Regions from separate parts of the Homo sapiens genome. Here region 2 is linked to region 1. Evidence: fine-mapped expression QTL. A gene starts in region 1. The other region holds a variant in brackets. All regions are shown on one strand. Distances are between the middles of the regions.

What was found. PIP is the estimated chance that this variant, and not a neighbour inherited with it, causes the effect.
Region 2: its variant is fine-mapped to the expression of LMO2 in whole blood (TOPMed, PIP above 0.99).

What each region holds. Positions count from the first base shown.
Region 1 is chr11:33,889,864-33,895,238 of GRCh38, forward strand. LMO2 (LIM domain only 2) reads right to left here and starts at 2,213. Exons shown (of 6, transcript NM_005574.4): 1 at 1,932-2,213. It overlaps LOC105376621 (a long non-coding RNA gene), which reads left to right and starts at 4,083. Exons shown (of 3, transcript XR_931176.3): 1 at 4,083-4,172. RefSeq lists enhancers at 1,669-1,778, 4,156-4,325.
Region 2 is chr11:33,857,598-33,862,972 of GRCh38, forward strand. LMO2 (LIM domain only 2) reads right to left here. Exons shown (of 6, transcript NM_005574.4): 6 at 979-1,978. The coding sequence ends at 1,759. Among named protein-coding and RNA genes, the nearest start is that of LMO2, 32 kb to the right of the region's middle. RefSeq lists a silencer at 382-555. The variant T/G (reference allele first, on the strand shown) is at 3,326.

The DNA of each region.
Region 1 (5,375 bases):
CACAATAGCAAAGATGTGGAATCAACCTAAGTGTCCATCAATGGATGATTGGATTTAAAACTGTGGTGTATATATATGCAATGGAATATTATTCAGCCATAAAAAAGAATGAAATCATGTCTCTCGCAGCCACATGGGTAGAACTGGAAGCTGTTATCTTAAGTTAAAAAAGTCAGACACTGAAAGACAAATATCACACTGTTCACTCATAAGTGGGAGCTAAATAATGTGAACACATGGCATTAGGGTATGGAATAATATACACTGGAGACTCAGAAGGGTGGGGGGAGGATGATGAGAAATTAATTAATAGGTACAATGTGGTGATATCAATCTGGTGATAGATATCAATAGATATCAATCTGGTGATAGATACCAATAGATATCAATCTGGTGATAGATACCTTAGAAGCCCTGACTTCAAGACTATGCAATTTACGCTTGTCACAAAATTGTACTTGTTCCCCATAAATTTATGTAAGTTTTTTTGTTTTTGTTTTTGTTTTTATGAGATGGAGTTTCTCGTCACCCAGGCTGGAGTGCAATAGTGCCATCTTGGCTCACTGCAACCTCCGCCTCCCGGGTTCAAGCAATTCTCCTCTCTCAGCCTCCCGAGTAGCTGGGATTACAGGGATGAGCCACCACGCGTGGCTAATTTTCATATTTTTAGTAGAGACAGGGTTTCACCATGTTGCCCAAGCTGGTCTTGAACTGCTGACCTCAGGCGATCTGCCTGCCTTGGCCTCCCAAAGTGCTAAGATTACAGGCGTTAGCCAATGTGCCCGGCCTGTAAGTTTTTTAAAAACCTAGAGGTGAGTAATTATAATAAGTGATATTATTATTATTATTACTCTTAACAACAATGACAATGATGACTGATGAGGGCTAAGTACCAGCTACTATCCAAGCACTTCCATGATTTATTTCTATTATTTCTCACAATGACCCTATGGGTACCCCTATATTACAAATGAGAAAACTGAGGCTGCCATCTTTCTAAGGTCTAAAGTGATTTTCTGGGAGCACAAACAAGAGCTTAATTAATTTTAACAGATAAAGACAGAAAAGGCTTCACAGAAGATTCACCTTTTCAGGGCAACCTAAAGAAGTATGGGTTGGTTTTCTTTAAGCTGAAACATTACGGCAAGAACCTGGAGTAATATCTGCTTCAAAGGGGAGTTATGCAAAGTCAACAAGAGAAGACGTGTAAAACCCAAGCACAGTACCTGGCACAAAGTAGATGCTCCCAAATCTTTGTTCCCCTTCATTGATCCTCTGTGATGGAAGGAACTTGTAGCCACTTTCCTCATCCGCCTTGGTTTTTCAAAAACACCCTTTGAAGTTATAACCTCCTTGGGAGCCAAGGCTTCTCTGAAGCACCCCATTACAATCTTTGCCCTCAACTCAGAACTGGAATGTGTTTGAAAATGCTAACAAGGGCAGCAGCCCCACCTCTTCGTCATTGCCTAAGGTTGTTAGGCAAACACACACACACACACACACACACACACACACACACACACACATGCACACACACTCACACAGTTGCTGGGGAGATCATGGTAAACACAAGCCTCTCTTTTGGATCAGAATAATTGAGTGGTCTCCCTTTGTGGCCAGTGTACAGGAACAAATTAGATGGGTAAATTAGCAGTTCCCGAAGACATTAGCAACCAGCGGCTCACACAGCAAGCGCCTGACTCACCGTGGGGCCTCTCCAAGTCACAGCCTATGAATAGATGCTCTTCCTCCCTCCGAAAGAGAAGCCAGAGTGCCCGGAACACCACAGGGGAAGCTTGAAGACTTGTACCCCTTTGGAGTCTTTTTATTTTAAAAGACCAATTTAATCACCACTTCTTCTGGCTCCTTGAAGATGAAAAAAGTTCCCTTGCAATCGTCCATTCATCAGAGAATTAATGAAGCCTACTCACCAGCAGATGATGTAATCCTGGTGGCTTCCCCCATCAGATCTAGGCTGCCTGCCCCACGGATACCTTCTGGGCTAATTGCCTGCTTTGCACCTGTTCCTTCTCGGGAGGCCCTGGCACCCTAGCACCTGGTGCCTGTGCCATCTCCCCTCTCTGCCAGGACACCCAGAGGCCCTTGTGAATAGCAAAGCCCACTTAACGGCTGAGGGCAGGTGGGGGTATTTCCTTCTCAATTCTGCTCAAGGCCCGTTGCTGTTCTTTGAGGATGTTGCAAATCCAGGGTTTGGAGGGCTGGGCCTCTTGGTGGCCTGGTTGTCTATCTGATAGGGCGGAGCCTTCACCCTTGCAGCGAGCTCTCTCACACCAGATGTGCTCTGCGTGGAATCCTAGGCCATCAGGGGATTCCTTAGCAAGCCCTGCAGGACCCAAATCCTAACTCAGACCCTCATCCTCCTACTCAGAATGTGGAGACTTGTGATCCTCAGTTTGGACGAATTCCAAGAGACCTTCCAATTCCCAGAGGCCATCTTTGGTTCTGTTCACACATAGCTCCCTCTCCCTCCTAGGCCTTCTCCCTTTGAATTTCTCCCCTACACCATCAGCCTGTATTTACTTCTCCTTCTTGCTTAATGCATGACTATATTATCCCAGTTAAGGGGGTCTGCAGGTTTTATCAGAAAGTTCAGAGGCTCACATGACCTGGATTGGAACTTGGCTCAGCCACTGACTAGCCAGACAAACTCAAATAACGTACACAGCTTCTCAGCACCTCACCCCCTCATTCATAAAAAACAGGGACAATGGTACCCACTTTGCAGGGTTGTTGAGTGGATTAAATTAAACAACACAAGGAAAGAGCTTTCCTAAGTTCCAATGCTATGTAACACACACAGTATTGTCTTACCCAGCAATAATTTCGGTGCACGGATCTGATCATCTCTTAATTAAATATTGAATTCTCCTAACACGGTTCTTTTTTTGAACCCCTCAGGGTCTGAACAGTTATAAGTGCACAGAAGTTGGGTCTTTATGAGCTGAATAAAAGGAGACTCCGGCTGTCTTCTCTTTTGTCCTTACCATAAAGCTCTTGTCAGCTGCTCTCCTGGCCCTGCCTCTGACCCTGGGCTTTGGGGCCACTATAGGCTCTCCTTTCCTTGTCCCCCTCTGAGTCCTGAAGTCCTGGTTTGCAATCTGCTGTTGCAGTTCTCTGGAATGGCTGCTTCCCCATGCGCCCCTGTCTGTCAGCTACCTCCCCCGCATGCATGTCTGTCTGCTGGGCAAGGCCCAATTCCGAGGTGACAGCTCACCGGGCCTCACCCACAAGTCTCTTCCAAGCATTAGCAGCCCACCCCAGTCCAAAGATATCTTTTATAGCTGATCTCTGGTGGCACCTCCTACCTTCCAATTAGGAGCCTGTCAACACCCAGGCCATCACTCTTCCTGCAGTGTCTGACAACACACACGCCTGCCGCGGCTGCGCCGGGAGAGTCAAGCAAAATTGTTTCCATGGTGGTGGTGGTGGCCTGAGCACAAGAGTTGAAATCTAGGTGAATCTGAATCTAGTTCTGCCTTCTCACTTTGCAAGGAGGTGTCTTATTTCTCTTTGAATTGGCAGCACCAAGCATCATGCCTGGCACACAGTAGGTACTCATAAATAAACACGTGTAAATCAAAAAGGCCGAAGATACATTGCTAGCTTGCAGACTCCCTTTCTCAATGTCTAATGATATCCAGTTCATTTCTTTCTCTTACATGTGCAAATCAGAAAGTTAGCTCATAACTCATCTGTTGTGACTTTTTCTTTCCTTTACTTTTGTGGTTGAAAATAAATTTACCCCAGAAAAGAGAGAGAGAAGGTGCCTGATTCCTTTGTCCTCCCTCTTCGATCCTCTCTAAATCCCTGGGTCATGGTAAGACTCTCTGAAATTCAGGGCCATTTTCAGACACTGGAGCCAATGAGGGAAGTATGACACAATCGAACATTTTTCTTATCTGGCAGTGTGGTCTGGTGGTTAGCATACGGGCTCTGCCAGTCGGAAGTCTGCCTTTCTATTTCTGGGGCTTAGGGGAAACCATGAAGCAACAGTCTTAGCAGCCCACTCACTCTTGCTTTCTCTTTCTCAATGTAAAATTGAGTTCACATTGGACCTGCTTACCCACAGCAGTCACCAGCTCAACCAGGGAAGGAAACGCACCACCCTGCTAGCCCTGCTTCAGCCTTGGGTGAGGCTGTGAAGGCTGGTGGTAAGCCGATGAAAGATAATCCAAAGAAATGAAAGTGAGGGTGATGAGTAGGAGAGCGGTTTGGGGCTGAGGGTACGAAGATGCCATGATGACTGACTTAACCACATCAAACTAAACCATGTCTCCTACTACAATTCACCAGCCTGAAATTGTGAGAGGATCTCGGGCGCGGAGATTTCGCTGGCTAAGGGGCACCCTGTGTGCCTACAAGAGGAGGTGGGAGGGAAGTTAACCTTGCGTTGTCCTCCAGGGCGCAAATCCAAAAGTGGGAAAAAGGGGAAGTTCTTTGATCTGAAGTAGAAAAAGTCGGGGAGAGAAGGAGAAACACCCAGAATGGCAACAAATTTGATGAAATCAGAGGGACAAAAAGAAGAGAAGGGTATTAAGATCAGATCTTCTGAAGGGCAGAGAACTATAATGACACAGTTGCTTTATTGCTGGACCCAGGACAGTTTATACAGCAGTTCGGAAAGGCCTCTTGAGGGGTTATCTGTGTCAGCCCAGCCTAGCATCGATAGAAACATGAATCTCTGGGAAATTATCTTGTGCCTCAGACTTCAAAGTACATAGAGATTTGAACAGCCTTGAAGTCGATAGGAAAACTTTCAGCATTTGATCAGTCGAATTATCCCACCATAACTCTGCAAGTTCTTGAGCCACATCTAGAAAGAACAAGGCAAGTTAGGGAAAAATCATCATTTAACATGTCATTTCTTTCCTCATTTCTACCCAAATGATCTTTAGGTCTCAATTCCTGCTCCTGTTGTCGTTTTTGCAACCAGGAAGCTGTGAGACCTTTGGGTTATCTTTAGAGTGAGACCCTCTAGAAGGTTTTAGGCCGAGCCTTGGGCTGGGTGATGAGATGGCATTGACTGTGGGCTGACTATTGCTTTGGAGTTGTGAGAATTTCCTCTCTGCAAAGGAGGTTCAAATACTATGTTTTCCCGGCTAATTGTTCATTATGCAGAGTGTCAGACTATGGTCAGAATATAGTGTTTTACAGGATCCCAGTGTTAATATCACAGAAAAGTCCAGCTGACATTATGTGATGTAGGGTGCTTTAAAAGAAAAAAAAAAAAAAACAGTTCCTCTGCAGGGGGCAACACTAAGAGAAGGATACTAGCTTTTTTTTTTGTTTTGTTTTGACAGAGTCTTGTTCCTGTCACCCAGGCTGGAGTGCAGCAGGGCGTGATCTCAGCTCGC
Region 2 (5,375 bases), 32 kb before region 1:
ACTTAGAACAAACATCCCCTCGCTGGTAATGCCTTTCCATCACCTGAGCTGGAATGCAATGTAACTGGATTTGTTTTAAATAGGCCACCTTAAGCAGTCAAATTTCCCAACTACTTGTAGCATTTTACAGACCAAGAGAGCCATCACTTCATTATTTCTCCTCTAGAAGAAAAAAAATCATTTGTCTCTCTGTCCAGGGATTTAAAAAAATTAAAAATAACAAAGATCACAAACCTTAGGAAGATTTAAAGGAATCTTATAGTTAACATGCAGCCTTAGCTGCATGTTTCTTGTGTCTTAATAACTGAACACATTTAGACTTCTTGCATTTCCGAGTACTCTAAGGAAATCATTGAAAAGCATATTCTTCTTCATCTAGGTTTGTCCTACGTCGGGACCCTCCTGGGCTAGCGCGCTTTAAGGTGATGGCCAGAAGGTGGCGCTCTGCATCAGTTCATGGGGGCGGCCTGACTCCGGGGAAGGCAAACACACAAACCAAGGTGCCTGCTTTAAATCCGCAAAGTAAAGGTCCTCTTAACCACTTGTCATAAAACACCCTGAGACACCCGTCTTGGAAAATCGAAGTGTCAAGCTCAGCATCTTTGCCACATTTCAAACTAGGTAATTACCTTCTCTCCCAAAGGGAATCTGCTTTATGTATTTGTGTCCTTTCTAGGTTACAAGTTTCCCAAAGGCAATGATCTTGCCTTCCACTCACTCCATACAATGCTGAAGTGAAATGCATATTGTACAATAACAATTTAATTATTCTACATTCCTCTGAGCTACATGATGACCTGTTACATAATTGCCAGTAATATAGAAATGTGCCTGCCTCATACAAACCCTTGCAATACACAGAAGTTTTTATTTGACCTAAGAGTAAATTGCTTATTTGCTTCTCCTTTAGAAAAGAAAAAGCAGAGCATTTCCCCGCCATCCCAAATTATAAGTCGTAATCAAATAAACAACACTGTATTTCAGTCTGTCATTTTTATTAAGCCTGCAGAGCTGTTTTTTTTTCTACACACGACAAATACTTTGATATAATCTAGGATAATAAAATAGTTGAACAACTTTTTAAGATTTATATTTGTATAGAAACAATCTGTGGAACTCCTCCCCTCAAAATGAAGGTGTCTAAAAACAGTGATTCATCAGCATTGCTTTAAATAATTGTTTGGTTAAAAGTTGTGGTTTCCATTCTCAACCGAAATGCGTCTCCATGCAGTTTTCCTTGGGTCCAAAGCTTAAGGCCTTGGGAAGGGGGCCAAGAAAAAAAGAATGGCCACTCTCCTTTCTGTCCTTCCCTTGTGTGGAGGACAGTGATTGAAACAGGGGAGTTAAAAAGCCAGGAAGAAAAGAAATCAATTGCACATCTCTAGTTCGCAAGCGTCAAAGTCACAACAAGTCTGTACACAACAACTCTCTATCTGTAGATATGAAATTCCATCATGATAGCACAGCGCCTGCTTGCCCCTAAATGTTCCTTTCTTCTGCTAATCATGTCAGTTACTATGGATGGGCTGTGGCCATAAGTTCTCCCTCAAGGGCTGGTCCTTCTGTCACCTTGAAGTGTCAGCCCCTGAATTATGCCACTTGGATGCTATGTCTTGATACCCAATAAAGGTCTACCATCCCCTAAGAAATCCCTTACCCCACCCTCAAACCCCCAAAGTGCCTAAGAGTGAAGACGAAGATGCCATGGAGACGGCGTCTTCAGTGAACACCTCCCCAAAGATGCCCGGGGACTCGGGCCTATATCATCCCATTGATCTTAGTCCACTCGTAGATGTCCTGTTCGCACACTATGTCAGAGTTGATGAGGAGGTATCTGTCACCTACACAGAAATGCTTCTGACAGGCGGCGCATTTGAAACATTCCAGGTGATACACTTTGTCTTTCACCCGCATTGTCATCTCATAGGCACGAATCCGCTTGTCACAGGATGCGCAGAGACCGTCTTGCCCAAAAAGCCTGGGGCAAAAGAAAGAAAAGCTAAGAAGACAGTGAAAGGGACAATCCTGGAAGACAGGGCTCGGGGATGAGCCCTAGAAAGGAGGCCGAACTTTCAGGATGTCAGGAAGCCAGGGAAGGTCGGCTCCAGAAGGAGGGCCGGCTAGTGCAGTCTTCACCAGCAGGCAGAGGGAACTCAGATGAAACTGGCATTTGGATCTGGCATAACTCCTCCCTTTTCTGAGCCCTCTCCTTGTCTGCAGCAACCGCTCATCATTCCCCTAGGCTGCCCCCTGGCTCCTCCTCTGTGGGCAAGGCTCTCAGCTGATGTGATCTATCATAAGGAGTTAGGCAAGTATTACCTGTCCCCTCCCAGGGGAACCCTCATTTCAGAAGAGCAGCTGGAGAGAGACCCTAGGGGCCCCTTTGAGAGGGTACTGACCAGGAATGCAATAAAACGGGCATTCTTCTGAGGCTCCCAAACTCTATCATGTCAACAGCCACTGATTCTACCCATGGGGAGAGCTGGCCTTGAATACCTCCATAAGCTGCAAAGCACATCTCCCCCTGATTATTCGCTGGGGCCCCAGCTGCTGGGAGACAGGGAGTTCCACAGAAAACACGCGGTGCAGCTAATCGTGCCTCTGAGATATGGAGGACCAACAGCATCTCTCCACCATGAAGGGAGGATCTTAATTCATGGCCCTCGCTGCCCACTGGCATGAATCAAAAGGGAAACTTCTTTTCTGACATTTAAATCAAGACTCTCCCAAGCCTCAGTTGATCAGTCACTTATTTCAGGCAGTATTCAGTGTCAAGGTGGGAGACAGAACATGGCAGGGCTCAGTGCAGTGGTTCTCAAAGTGTTGGTCCTGGGACCAGCGACATCAGCACTGCCTGGGAACCTGACAGAAATACAAATTCTCAGGCTGGGCGCAGTGGCTCACACCTGTAATCCCAACACTTTGGGAGGCTGAGGCAGGCAAATCACTTGAGCTCACAAGTTCGAGACCACCCTGGGCAACATGGTGAAACTGTGTCTTTACAAAAAATACAAAAATTAGCCGGGTGCGGTGGTGCATGCCTCTAGTCTCAGCTATTAATACTTGGGAGGCTGAGGTGGGAGGATGGCTTTAGCCCGGGAGGTGGAGGTTGCAGTGAGCCGAGATCATGCCACTGCACTCCAGCCTGGGCCACAGAGCCATACCTTGACTCAAAAGAAAAGCAAAAACTAAACAAACAAACAAAAAAACAAATTCTCAGCCCTCCTCCTTCCCTACCCAACTGAGACACCCTGGGGAGAAGGCCCAGCAGTCTGTGCGTTAATGAACACTTCCGGGGGACTGGTTGCAGGCTGACATTTGAGAA[T/G]CAACAGCAAAAGTGCAGTAACACAAGTACCGGAAGCAGAGAAGACCCAGCTTCAATGTCCCGGACCAGCCCTGAGTGACCCTGGAGAGACCTCTGATTCTCTGAGCCTCAGTGAAATGGCAGCCATCATAGGCTCCACCTCACTCAGCTGTTAAAACAACCAAACGAAGCATGTCAGGGCACCCATGGTCAAGGGCTAAGCCAACGCTGGTTATGTTTTAACACATCTTGGGTGTATTCCCAGCTGTGCCAGTCTTGCTGCAGGAAGTAATTTTCACTCGTGGCTGAAAACATAGCATGTTAGCAGGTGGTTTCTACATAAAACCTTTAGGACAGTTTTAGGTGAATGCTTGCTCTTATTGGAAGTTCTGGTTGATTTCAGGATATCAGAGAATCAGTGGGTACATTCTGAGAGGTTGTAGGGGACCTAAGGGCAGTTGACACATTTTGCAATATTTGGGCGAGATTAATGGAATTGACAAGAGGTGGTCTGTGAGTGGAGAGCTCATTGTTCGGGCCAGGGCCAGCTAATTTGCCTCTGAATCCTGCTTTCCATTTGAAGATCTCTGAGTGTTTTCAAAGCACCGCCTGGGAGCAAACTCATTACTGGGGGGAGAACATTTTATCCCAACGTAGCAGATGGTGGAGCTGCAGGTAACCGCCACATTGGAGGTCACAGAGTGGAAAGACAGTTCTGGTTTCCTGACTGCTCTGTAAGTTAAGTTTGGGCCTGAGCAAGGATGAACGACTGAGAAAACAGTGTGCATGGAATGAATCCAACTGCCTGGGGTGTGCGATCCTTAAGGAAGGAGGGAGCTTATTAAAGGGAAGTCAGGGGGTAAATTACAACCCACATCAGGCAGCTATGAAGGGAAGGACAAAGGACGAATATGTGGGAGACAAGTTCAGGTCCCAGCATGACCTCTAACTTGCCAGGTGACCTGAGCAAATGGAGTCCCCTGTACAGGCTTCTGTGACTTAAGCCATAAAGCAAGGGAACTGAAAAAGAAGGTCTCTGTAGCCCCTTCCAGCTCTGGGATTCGGAGATTCTAATATTAGTAAAAAATAAGCCGGGACTTGACACCTAACTTGAGCATTAACCTCTGGCACCAAGAATTGGTATCTTAGGCTGGATATCCCAGAAGCAGCCCCTGAGGCAAGGATTGATGTGCCAGTGATTTATGAATGAGGCATTCTCAGGAAAAACCTGGAAGGCAGCAGGGGAGGCTGGAGGGAAGGGGAGGAAGCCAAGCCAAGTTGTATCCTCAGGCAAAGTCCCTCAGAGGGGAGGGACCCTGGAATATAAGTTATGCCTGGCTCCAGGCAAGGCTGCGGGGCTTGGTACTCCCACCATGTCTGTCACTGGTTAAGGTCCGTTGGGGGTCTAGTTGGGGCAGGCATACTTCTGGCTCTAACAGATTCAGGTGCTGGCTGTTAAAAGCAAAACCACTGCCATCACCGCCACCCCACCACTCCCAGCACACAAGAATTAGTGAAAAGGGATCCAAGGAGATCTGGCTCAGCACAGACATGAACAGCTGCTCTTGGGTTCCCAACAATACAACACAGCAGCAGAGTTGAGGTTCTGCATGGGGGTCTCATGAATGTTTGAAGCTAAATGTCGGAAAAGAACTGTAACAGGCAACTCAGCCATTGGAAATCCTCACGGGGACAAGTTATCCTAGGGGTGAAGAACTCAAACACATTAGAGGGCCCGTTCAGTTACTCCTCCAACTTGCCTTGTTAAAAGATCCTGCCAGATATACTAAGAATGCCAGTAAACAAGACCTTGGCTAAAGGACCATCCCTGACGCAAAAGACAATTTTTCTCCTCTGTCAAGAGATGTCCCATCTTAAGCTCTCTGCTGCCCATTTTAATAACAATAATATAAATATTAAAGAATGGCTGGAAATGCCTGCACTAATGCAGAGTTAATTAACATGTTGCCTAGGAATGTGGCAGGGAGAAGAATTATTTCATGTCACCAAGACACAAGTTAATTAACATTGGGTTCTCCCAGACTGTTTTTTTTTTCCTCTCCTTTTTGAA